Homo sapiens: one gene and its partners. The protein of the gene in region 1 purifies or fractionates together with the protein of each later gene. This does not show direct contact. Each region holds a gene or a part of one and is shown on either strand. Other genes may lie near its edges.

Region 1 (3,645 bases):
TGGCTAACATGGTGAAATCCCGTCTCTACTAAAAAAATACAAAAAAATTAGCCGGGCGTGGTGGTGGGTGCCTGTAGTCCCAGCTACTCGGGTGGCTGAGGCAGGAGAATGGCATGAACCCGGGAGTCAGAGCTTGCAGTGAGCCGAGATTGCACCACTGCACTCCAGCCTGGGCGACAGAGCAAGACACCATCTCAACAAAACAAAACAAAAAGATTTCATTTCTTTTTTTTAATGAAATAACAAGATTTCATTCTTGGCTTATACCTGGATACTCTGCCTTTCAAGTCCCAGAAATTTAAATTTCCATCCATATCTCCAAGCACTAATGTATCACCTTTCCAAGCGATGCAGGTAATACTACCCATACTTCCCTAGAAAACAACAGCAACAAACAAATATAAATTTCACTATGCTGTATAAGACATTATAATAAATATTTTAATAAAACTTAATTTAAAGGGCTGTGCTTTAGTATGCTTTTAGTCATCAAATCCTAAAACAGACTTTAGACACTAACAAAGAGCTACATTGCCTATCAATTTCAACTATGAAGAAATAGGAGATTTCAACTTCATAGACATTAAGTAGTTACTGGAACTAGATTTAAAGAGAGGGGATGTCTTTTGAGGAACAAATACCTCAAAAAAAAAAGGGGGAAATTAAAGTAAGAAAAACAGAGAAGTAAAGGGAAGGTTTTCCAGAGAGCCAACTCAAACTTATCTCTCACTGCAAAAGGATAACTAAATCCATTCCAAGGGAAACTTAAAGCTCTTTTATAACTAATTGTGCCGTGATTTTTCTATTGAAAAAAGGATCCAGAGCTTCACTGACACGTTTTGGAACATTGTGGAATCATGAAGGTGAAGAGATGCTGTTTACTAAAGGCATATGCAGTTTAAATTCACAGAAAGCTTTGCTCAGAAGTTACATATAGAAGCACAACATAAGAATGAAATGCTGCTGTAGTCAATCTAACTTGGAGGAAGAAAGGAACTTGCAGTTCTAATAGATGCTCAGAGGTGGTATCATGGAGGGCTCAGCAGCCTGGGCTCTGCAGTCACACTGCCTGGGCTTGAATCCCAGCTTGAAACTGGTATGTGATTTGAGGCATGTTTACTTAACCTTTCTGTCTTGGATTTATTGTCCATAAAGTAGGGTAAGTTCATGAAACTTGAGTTGTTGCTAGTATTAATAAATTTATAAAGGCAAAGGCCTTAAAGCAATGCCTGCCATGCAGTAAATAGTCAATACATGTTAGCTATTAAATAATATTACTGCTCAATTACTTCTCTATTTATTAAAAGAAATTTTATTTTTGCATTTATTGTACAACATAAAAATTCAAATGGTATCCATGGTAAAAAGTAAGAAAACTCTAGTGGTTTGAATAATTGACCATTAGTGGACTAGCACACACACTGAATACCGTAAAAACTCTGGTAATAGTCAAGAAACAAAACAAAAACTGGATTTAAAAATCAATATTATAATAAAGTCCATTAATAAAAAAAAATATTAAAGAAATGAAATTCTGTATATAATATGAAGCAACATTTTAAGATATCTACTTTCCTAGCCATAAAATAGAATGTTTAATTAAGAAGTTGCCTTTGAAGAGACTTCTGAAACCAGGTCATAATAGACTCTGCAACTTCCTTCTTGCTTTATCAGATCACTTACTCTAGGGGAGGCCAGTTGTCATGTCGTGAGGACACTCAAGCAGCCTTATGGAAAGATCGACATGAAGAACTAAGGTCCCTCGTCAACAGCCAGCATTAATGTGCAATAGCCTGTGAGGCAGCCAACTTGGAAATAGATCCTTCTGTCCCATTACACTTCAAAAGACTGTAGCCACAGCCAACATCTAGATTGTAACTTTATGAGACCCCAAAGCCACCTATAAAATTATGGGGGTTGGCATTCTACTAGAGCATTCCATTTTTAGATAGCAATTTAAAATAAATATACCTATTTTAAAAAATCCCCTCATGCCTTCATTTAACCATTATAATAGCCTGCATTAATTAACATAAACATTTTCATGATCCATCTATTAAAAACTATCTATGAGATGCATGCTGACACAAATGATTAATGGCAAAACTTTAGTTACAGATTCCACAAGGCCATAAGAATATATGTAAGTTAGTAAATGTTAATAATACTATTACACTTACAACCTGATTACTATTATCCAAAAATAATACTAGATTGTAAGTCAAATCCTTCAGGGTAATGCCTGAAATGGAAAGAAGACAGATACTGAAGTCAGACAGGCCTGAGTTTAAAACACTGCTCTGCCATATGAGTAAGCTGGATAACTTTGGGAAAGTTACTTATTCTCCCACAGTTTTGTTATGGGTAAAATGGAGATAACTCCTCATGGATTATTACAGGGATAAAAATGAGTAGCACACAGTAAACATTTAATCAAAATAGTTACAGCGTTATTCTCTAGCAGTATGGAACAAGTTTAATCGATAATATCTCCTTAAATAAAGTTTATTTACATTAGGCTTTTCTGAAGTTTCCAACTTAACTATGCCTTCACTGGATATGGAACCAACAAAACAAAATCTTCTTGATGAAGATTTAATCAAGGTTGTACTCACATCTGGTGGAATCCGAGCACTGTCTTTTACTGAGTTTCCTTCAACAGTGAGATGATACACTTGGCCATCAATATCGGTAAATACAAAATGTTCCCGGGCAGAGATGTTCTGACTAAGTTCAGATTTACTTTCTGCCTCCTGCAGCAAGCTTTGGGATAGTGAAACATATGATAAAGATGTTTTTTTTTCCCCTAGAGTGATACTCATAATTAATTAACTTGCCCAAAGTACAGACGCATTAAGAGGAGGTCCAAAACTATTTTTTTAAAAGTCTGAAACTAATATTTGCCCAGCTAATTATGGGTAAACATGAATCACTCCTTAACAGCCACAACATCAGAGGAAGTTTACCCTGCACAGAGAGAAATGGTGATCTAAACTTAACACAAGAAAAATAAAATTCATAGAGATTTTGGCTATAGAACTGTGCTCAACAGAAGGGAGGCTGTACAGTGACCCAACATTATCTCTGAAGCCTTTTATCTGTAAGATTGGTATGGATGGGGATGATACACAAATTTAGGATTCCCAACACATTTTCTTTGGTGTGTATAAATGATAATATGATCTATCTGTATGTCTATGCTATGTTCATTTGAATTTCAGAAGCTGAAGTGTATGGAGTAGAAGGGCACTCGGAATGAGCACATTTACTACTAGATGCTGATGGGTGAATATTACTGCATATGTTATTAGTTATAACAAACAGTATAGTACAATACTAAAAATGATAAAATTATCTTTTTAGTAATCTGGGTATGTACTGAAAGATGAAACTAAGTATGTTCAAAAGCAGAGTCCAACTTGCTACCATAGACACCTTCCGATGATACTTGTCAACTTCCCAGACATGATGCTAATGGCACAAATGACAGTGTCAAGAAACACTGTACTGTACCTGATCACAGATGATTCAACAATACTCAGCTCTGTGTCTGAGACTACGGTCTGGCGGGCCATGGCCTCTCGAGTTGCAAGTTGCTTCTTTCTCAGGCTCTTCAAGTTGTGAGATGGTGACCACTCCTGTAAA
Region 2 (4,161 bases), on another chromosome or scaffold:
GTTCTTGAGGGAAAAATCCAACTGTTTGTGCTACTCGATAACGTACCCGCTGGGACTGATGGCTCAGGAAGCGGCGGCAATTTCCAAGAGGGTTTTGCGAAGGATTTATCCGCCTCGCCTGACTGGAGACGCTCAGAGCCGGAGCTGGATTTCTCTCCAGGCGCCCCCGGCCCTCGGCGCCCGGAGGCAGGAACCGCGGTGCGGAGGGCGTCAGGGGCTGGATTCGAAGCCGAGGGTGCGGCCCAGGATGCCGACTCCGGACAAGCTGAACGGCTGGAGGCCACAGGACTTAGGAACGACCCCGCCCTCTCCTCCGAGCCCCTATCCCTCCACAAGCCTCCAACCCGCCAGCCCCTCGGCCGCGGCGGCCCGCGGGCTCACACACCGCCCCAACTACAACTCGGCCCCTGGGCGCCAGGTTTCGAGACCCAGGCTTCGGATCGAGCCCACGGAGGACCAGGGTAGATTGCTCAATTTTAAAGATATCCTCATGTTATCAGTAAACATTTATTTTTAAGTGGCAGAAACTCTTGCCCAAGGCAGATGACATTGTAGCATTTTTGTTTTTTCGGATTTGGATTTGGGCAAGTCTTTGAAATCTTCAAAGAGGAGGCAAGGCTACCCACAACAATTCTTATTCTAGTAATTACATTCTCTGGTTTTGTGGTATCTGCCAGGTCAGCATCTATTGGCCAGGTGGGACTGAAAAAATTGCCTGACAAATCGGGACCTGGGAAAGCGGTTTTCTGTGAAAGTCAAAGTGTCAAGAGATAATTTTCATTTTATTATCTAAACAACTGTGCCAAACATCTAATTGACTGTAGACCTAGACTACAGACCGTCACATTAGCTCCTGGAGCCGAAGCTCCAGCCATGTCCCTTTCATTTGTTTCTCTAAAAGCCGGGTTACCTAGCTCTGAGCCATAGACCCTTCTCACAAGGCTGTGGTCTGGTCTACACTAACAAAATAAAACTGGAAACTAAAGTGATGCCTGTACAAATCAAGGCCACTCTTTAAAATAAAATTTAAAAAAAAAGAAAAGAAAAAAACAAACTCCAACAAATTTCAAGGAAGAAAACGAACTCCAACAAATGCAACTCTCTTTTCTCCGGGAAAGACAAATAATTGAAACGTGTGTGTGTGTGTGTGTGTGTGTGTGTGTGTGTGTGTAGGGCCAGTGGAGGATCTTTATTAGCAAGCCGATTGCTGGATGCAAACTCCGGGGTTCGGACTGGCTACGACCTTAAAAGCCCTCTGCCCCCGCCCCCTGCCCGGGAAAACTGTCCTCGGTATTCCAGCAGCCGGGTGGGCTCCCTCCCGAAGGCGGCGAGCAACGGCGGAAGCCAGTTTGCTTACTGCAAACCTTCCCCACCTTGGGTAGGAGAGGCACGTGTGACTTGGAGAAGTCGGGCCAAGGTTGCCGAGAAACATCCCAAGACAGCCAGGCCCTCCACACTGAACATTAACTCTCCGATTCGCCCTCCCTGCTGCCCTTGCTTCCCCCAGAGCTGGGGCACGCGAATGGACTTTCCCCCGCCCGGACGCGCCAGCGAAGGCTGAGGTCTCGGAGGTGGTGGTGGACTTGCGAGAGAAGCGTGGTGCGAGGTTAAGCCGGGCGGAGGGAGAGCGGGAGGAGTTGTACTCTGGTCTGAGACTGGCTCAGCTGGGAGAGAGAATTGGGCAGGCTGTGGCGAGGGCCAGCACAGGCTCCGAGGACGCGCCTGGGCTTGCGTCCGAACTGGTATATTTTCTAGAAAAGCCTGGAGGTCTCCACCTGCTTTCCTGGGAGGGAGACCTACGCGGCGAAGGCGCGGGTGGATGCCGCACAGCTCTTCCCTGCCTGGGAATCTACCTCCGCGGACCTGCAGCCTTCCCGGCAGTAACTTCTAAACAGCCCCGCGCGCCCCCGAGCCTCCCCCGCATCGCCGCAGCACGGGCGCCGGCCGGCCGCCTCGGCGGGCACAGCGTGGACACTCACCCTGGAAGCGGTGGCCGAAGAAGCGGTTCCGCAGGACCCAGGGGTAGAAATGGAGAGGGTCCCGGTGCTGGGCGCCGAAGAAGGAGTGCGGGGGCTGCAGCGGGGAGGCGCCCAGCTGGTGCGCCGGATGCACGGTCAGCGCGGGGTGGTTCATGGCCTCGGGGAACACGAGCTCGGGCCCACCGTAGAGCGAGCGGCCCGCGCCCGCGGCGGCCGCGGCAGGGAAGCCACTCACGAAGGCCGCCTCGGCCGCGCTGGGGTGAGGGTAGTTGAGCGCCGTGGGCCGGAGCGGTTCCTCGGAGGCGGCCGCCGCCAGGAGATGGGAGCCCGCGCCCCCGCCGCCAGTGCCCCCGCCGGTGCCGCCGTCCTTGGCCACCAAGGACTCTATGGTAAAGCCGCGCTTGGCCGCGGGCTGGAACATGGTCGCAGCCGCGGGAGCTGTGCGAGGCAGCCGGGCTCTGGGGAGCGCTCCGCGTCCTGGCGCCGCCGCCTTGCGGGGTGTGCACCCAGCCAGGCACATGCACACCCGCCCGCACCCCTCACCTCCCCCGCCCGCCCGCTCGCGCTCGGCCCCCGCGGGCGAGCCAGGCGCGGAGCGGCGAGGGGTGTGTGAGCGAGCGACCGCGGGGTCCGGCCACAGCGTACGGCCAGGCGCGGCGGCTGCTGCGGCGGAGCGGGCAGCTCCAGGCGCCCGCACAGGCGCGGGCTCCGTGCTAGGCTGCGAGCTGCCAGTAAGGCCCGAGGGTTGAGCTCGTCTCCCTCCTTTCGGAGTCCCGCTGGGACCGACCCCAGCCCCCGGTGTCCCCGCACTGCCCTGCCCAGCCCCGGCCGCCCAGCGCTGCGAGGCGCGAGTTAGCGGGCACCTGCCCCGCGCTCGCCCATTGGCCGCCGCTCACCTGCCCCAAGGTGGGGGGCGGGGCGGGGCGGGGCGAGGGACGGCGGGTGGGGAGGGAGCCCGCAGTCGGAGGCAAAAGCCGGACTGGAGCCTTCGCGGGGAGATCCAGGCCTCCTCCTCCCCTCGCCACTGGCTTCTCCTCGCGACTCCGCCCTTTAGCTGAGTCTGGTGGCCGTGCCGCCGTCTCAACCCACGCGGGAGCCGAAGAAGGCGTCCGAAGGGCTTGGGGCTAAACTCCAACCCTCCCCTCCCCGGTGTGTAGCTCAGCCTAACTCTCCCATTCGTCCCGGGATGTCGTTTCAGTTCTCAGAGAACTTGGATCCGAGCGGAGGGTGGATGTTTGGGGTCCAACACATTGGTTTTCCCGAAAACCAGCTCTCTGCCCCCCTGCTCTCCGGGACTCTCCCACTCACCCACCATCGGCCTCCTGGGCCGCGGTCTGAAGCTGCGACCTTGTTCCTGAGGTTTCGCGTTTTCTGGATGTCACGGGGGACAGCTCTGGAAAGGGGACGCTCACTCCCTTCACAAGGGGCCAGGCGGGGCACTGCGCGGGAGAAGCCGCCGGAGCGGTCCCACTGCCACCCTCCAGCTGTTCGCGGGGCTGGAAGCAGCTCCAGTGCCCAGACACGGTGCCGCGACCGGCTTGGACCAGGACGGCGGGCCTCGGCACTGGGAGATCCACCCCCTCGCCTTCTCTGAGGCTCTGGGGGCTCAAGTGTCGGCGGGCCGGACCAGGTCAGGGCCTCGGAGACACTGTGGCTTAAATTGAAGCTGGCCAAGTAGCCCGAGCCCATCTCAAGAGAACACGCCAGCCGTCAGGACACGCAGAAGCAGCCTGACCTCCCTCGACCTTCACCTTCCACCCGCGACCGCGGAACCGCGGACGACTCTGCTCCGGCCAGTTTTTCCGTACGGCGGACGAATTCCCCGGGGGCAGTTCTCACGACAGGCTGTGAGAGCCGGGACTCCCCAAACTTTCCCACCCCACCTTCGAGGCCGCAGAAAGGCGCCGCTCCGAGGCCTAGGAGGGCGCGGGCGGCGGTGGGGAGGCTGGGACCTGGACCTTGCCGGCGCACTGCGGAGAGGGAGCCGCAGAGAGTTCCGCTTCCTCGCCGCTGCCGGGGTCCATTCTAGCGGCCTGAGCGCTGCCTGGGCGCGCAGATCTGGGTTGGGCCTCCTGACGCCCCAAGGCCACGGGGTCCGTGCGCCGCGCAACTCTGCGGGGACTCCAGGCCGGGTCTTGGCAGCGGCCCGCCTGAGCGCCGGGAGCCGTGGTTTGGAGAGCGC
Region 3 (3,645 bases), on another chromosome or scaffold:
TGAGAAGCAAGGACCACTCTGGGGAGATCTGCCAGGAGAGACTGCCAGAGTTGGGCAGAGGGTGGGATGTGAGCAGATGCTGAGGTCAGAGGGACCAACAGACCTCCACGAGAACAACTTCACGAAGGCTAGAACCTTTATGATACTCCCCACAGCAGAGCTCAGGGATATCCAAAGGGAGCTGTTAGGTGCTTTTTCCTTGATAAGGATTTGGCTTTTCTTCCCTGGAAGAGGAACAAGGCCTAGAGATCAGGATGAGCATTAGTTCTGAGCCTGCCTTTCTATCCTATGAGAGAAGAGGAAGGCTTTCTCCTTCCCCTGCTCCAGCCTGTTGCCACAGGGTGACACCAGAGAGAAAAGCAACTGTTGGCCACTGAGAGGCATTTCTGCTGCAGCCTGAGCTATGGCCCGGCTGGGCCACGGCAGTGGCACTAGTGCCTCACTGAGGCAGCGAGGGGCAAGCCTGAGGAGTGCAGGCAGAGGGGCCTGCTGCTGGCTGGGGGCTCTCTGAAGAGGGAGGGTGGCTGTGGGGAGGTGTGCCCTACCCTTAGAGAGCTATCAGCACCAAGATAGGAAAATCAATGGAGTTAACTACATGAGGAACGAGAAGTCCTTCTGGGGAAGATGAGGGGCTCCCTGATGTTATTCTCCCCTTGAGACTAAGAACAGAGGTATTTGGGGTAGAGGTGAGAGGCAGAGGAGAAAGAACGACGAGGGCTGGCAGACAAGAACAAGCAGAACCTCTGGCTTTCTTCTATGAATCAAAAGCTCAAGTCACTGCCATGAGACCAGGAGGTTAAGCTTAGAATGCAGCAACATCCAGGAGCCTAGAGAAGCAATCATCCCCATGGCGGGTCCCAAGAACACCTCATTGTTGGTCCTTTCAGGCTCTCTGACAGCGATGGAGAGGCAGTCTTCCTCCCAGAGTCAGCTGGTCCCAACATGAGCCCACTCCATGAATCCATAAAAACAGCTGGAAAGAGCTTTCTTCATTTCCCTGCATCTTGGCACAAAAGATCTTCCCAGTCTCCGTTAACAGCAATTCCAACTGCGCAAGCGTGAGTCTCTCTGAAGCCGCCCTCTACACCCAGATCTTACACCCAGTGTGTTCCTCTTTGGGGACCAGCAAACCCCAGACCCAGGACTCCAGAACTTTCATAAAGGTGGACATAAACATTCCATTTGTCCAAGTGTGTATGTGTCAGGGGAGGGGAGGTTGCCAGGAATCTAGGGGCTGCAGAGGTGCGAGAACCTCCACTGCAGGCCCCAGGAGCCAAATGAGGAGGCAGCCACTGTGGAGGATGAGCTTCACTGCCCGGCCCCACCTACTCTTCCCTCTCCCTTTCATTCCCTTCTAGCACTCTGGTCTCCTAGGAGAGGAGGAGCAGCTGATACCACTTCTCCCCAGGGTTCTGTGCTCTCAGGGCGCAGCCTGGCACGTGCAGGGCTGGGGAGGCCACAGCTCTGAGGACACCCGGTGAACAGTGAGACCAGGAAAGAGGAAAGGCCTTAGGAGAGAGCATTGTGACTTGAAAGTGGCTCTGAGAGTTCAGTGGCAGCAGCCACCACAGTGCCCACCCGCGTGGGAGTGATGGCTGTCCCCAAACTTGGTCCTCCGGCTCAGGATCTCATAGGAGCAATCCTCCCCACAGCAACCGGACATGCTGGGGGAAGAGTCATCAATTTCAAATCTGCAAGGCAGGCAGGAGAAAAGGGTTGGTGGCAGGCAGCTGAGTGCCTTCCTCCCTGGCCCGAGAACTCTTCTACCAGCCACACTGATGAGACCCTTAGGATGAGGGTGCAGGAGGTGGACAGTGGACCAAATCAGAGAGCACTGCCATACCATCTCCCTGAACCTGAACCCCCATGGACCACTGGACCATGAGCTCAGGCATCAGAATGAGTGAGGGCCAGGACCAGAAAAATGGCCCTGGGCAGGCCCACCTACCACCCAGAAGGGCCCACACCCAGCTCCTTACTGCAACGCTTCTCTGAAGAACTGGTAGGCACCATGATTGTGTTTAAATACTGTTAACATAACCTTCTTCATCTGTGTGCTGGAAGAAAGCAGAGCAAACGCCTTTTAGAAAGAGAAACATGGCCAGGCATGGTGGCATGCACCTGTAATCCCAGCACTTTGAGGGGCAAAGGTGGGAGGATCATTTGAGCCCAGGAGTTAGAGACCAGCCTGGAAAACATAGTGGGACCCCATTTCTACAAAACATTTAAAAATTTAAAAAAATCAGCCCAGTATAGTGGCATGTGCCTTTAGTCCCAGCTACTCCAGAGGCTGAGGCTAGAGGATCACTTGAGCCTGGGAGGTAGAGGCTGCAGTGAGATACGATCACACCACTGCACTCCAGCCTGGGTGACAGGGTGAGACCCTGTCTCAAAAAAGAAAAGACACAGAGACTAAGGTCATGCTTCCTTTCCTTTCTGCCTTTGTCTGTTACCTCCCTTTCACCCACACGAGTGTTCCTGAATTTGGCCTCTAGCCTCTGGAGGTCTTGGACCCCCACACAGCACTCACTGCTTCCCCCATCACAGGCTGATCAGACTGCACAGGCATCGGCCCTGACCAGACTGGCTTCTTCCAGAGCAAGGATGTTTCCCACTTCCTCTCTGTAGCACCATTACTTCGGTACAGAAGGTGGCAGAGATTAGAAACTCAAAAGATGCTCACTGGCCAGGTGTGGTGGCTCATGCCTGTAATCCCAGCACTTTGGGAGGCTGAGGTAGGTAGATCACCTGAGGTCAGGAGTTCGAGACCAGCCTTAACATGGAGAAACCCCGTCTCTACTAAAAATACAAAAATTAGCCAGGCATGGCAGTGCGCGCCTGTAATCCCAGCCACTTGGGAGGCTGAGCAGAAGAATTGCTTAAACCCGGTACGTGGAGGCTGCAGTGAGCCAAGATGGCACCATTGCACTCCAGCCCGGGCAACAAGAGTGAAACTCTGTCTCAAAAAAAAAAAAAAAAAAAAGATGTTCACTGCACTGAGCTAAACAAACAAAATCTGGAGTCATAATAAGGCAGGGAGCATCTTACTGAGAGGGTTCTAAGACACCTTTCTCCCAAAACATGCCTATGAGCCTCCTCCTCCAACAAGGCTCAAAGAATGGCAAGTGCCTCAGTGACAGCTCCTTCCAACTGAGTGCTATATGGGCCTCCTAAGAAGGGAGGCCTTACCTGTTGGCCATGAGCTGCAGGATCTGTATGAGGAACTTCCCCAGGCCTTTCCGCCGCACCTTGCTTTCCAACTGCACTTCATAGCTAGGTGAAGAAAGCAGAGAGGTGAGCGTGCAGGATGGGACATGAAGAGGCTGTAAGGTCTGGCAGAGGAGCTTGCAGTCCTTGGCAGCTCATAGACCTAGGTAGGTCCAGGGGCTTTGTCACCTGGCTGGAGTGCCTGGAACATCGCCAGGGTCTCTCTCCCCTACCTCCCCCAAGCCATGGCTCCTACCAGTACAGGACTTCATCCCCACACTCCACGTCAAACCGGAAGTGAGAAAAGGCAACAGGGACGGAGCTGTTTTCCCACGCGATGAGGTACCAGGCTCGGTCATCTGTCATTTCCTCCCGTTTCTCTCGGTCCTTCCAGCCCCACTCGCTCTGCTCATACCTGGGGAATTTGGGAGCAGTCAG

What was found.
Region 2: the proteins of WDR11 (region 1) and EMX1 purify together in Homo sapiens (co-immunoprecipitation; one study listed by IntAct). This does not show direct contact.
Region 3: the proteins of WDR11 (region 1) and NAA40 fractionate together in Homo sapiens (co-fractionation; one large-scale study listed by BioGRID). This does not show direct contact.

Annotation. Positions count from the first base shown.
Region 1 is NC_000010.11:120,885,807-120,889,451, reverse strand, and holds part of WDR11 (WD repeat-containing protein 11), read right to left. Parts: intron 3,639-3,645; coding exon 3,514-3,638; intron 2,764-3,513; coding exon 2,616-2,763; intron 375-2,615; coding exon 268-374; intron 1-267. UniProt on the Homo sapiens protein: Involved in the Hedgehog (Hh) signaling pathway, is essential for normal ciliogenesis.
Region 2 is NC_000002.12:72,916,191-72,920,351, reverse strand, and holds the start of EMX1 (homeobox protein EMX1), read right to left. Parts: upstream 2,834-4,161; 5' UTR 2,500-2,833; coding exon 1,980-2,499; intron 1-1,979. UniProt on the Homo sapiens protein: Transcription factor, which in cooperation with EMX2, acts to generate the boundary between the roof and archipallium in the developing brain. May function in combinations with OTX1/2 to specify cell fates in the developing central nervous system.
Region 3 is NC_000011.10:63,952,384-63,956,028, reverse strand, and holds part of NAA40 (N-alpha-acetyltransferase 40), read right to left. Parts: intron 3,623-3,645; coding exon 3,464-3,622; intron 3,274-3,463; coding exon 3,190-3,273; intron 2,058-3,189; coding exon 1,980-2,057; intron 1,692-1,979; coding exon 1,550-1,691; 3' UTR 1-1,549. UniProt on the Homo sapiens protein: N-alpha-acetyltransferase that specifically mediates the acetylation of the N-terminal residues of histones H4 and H2A.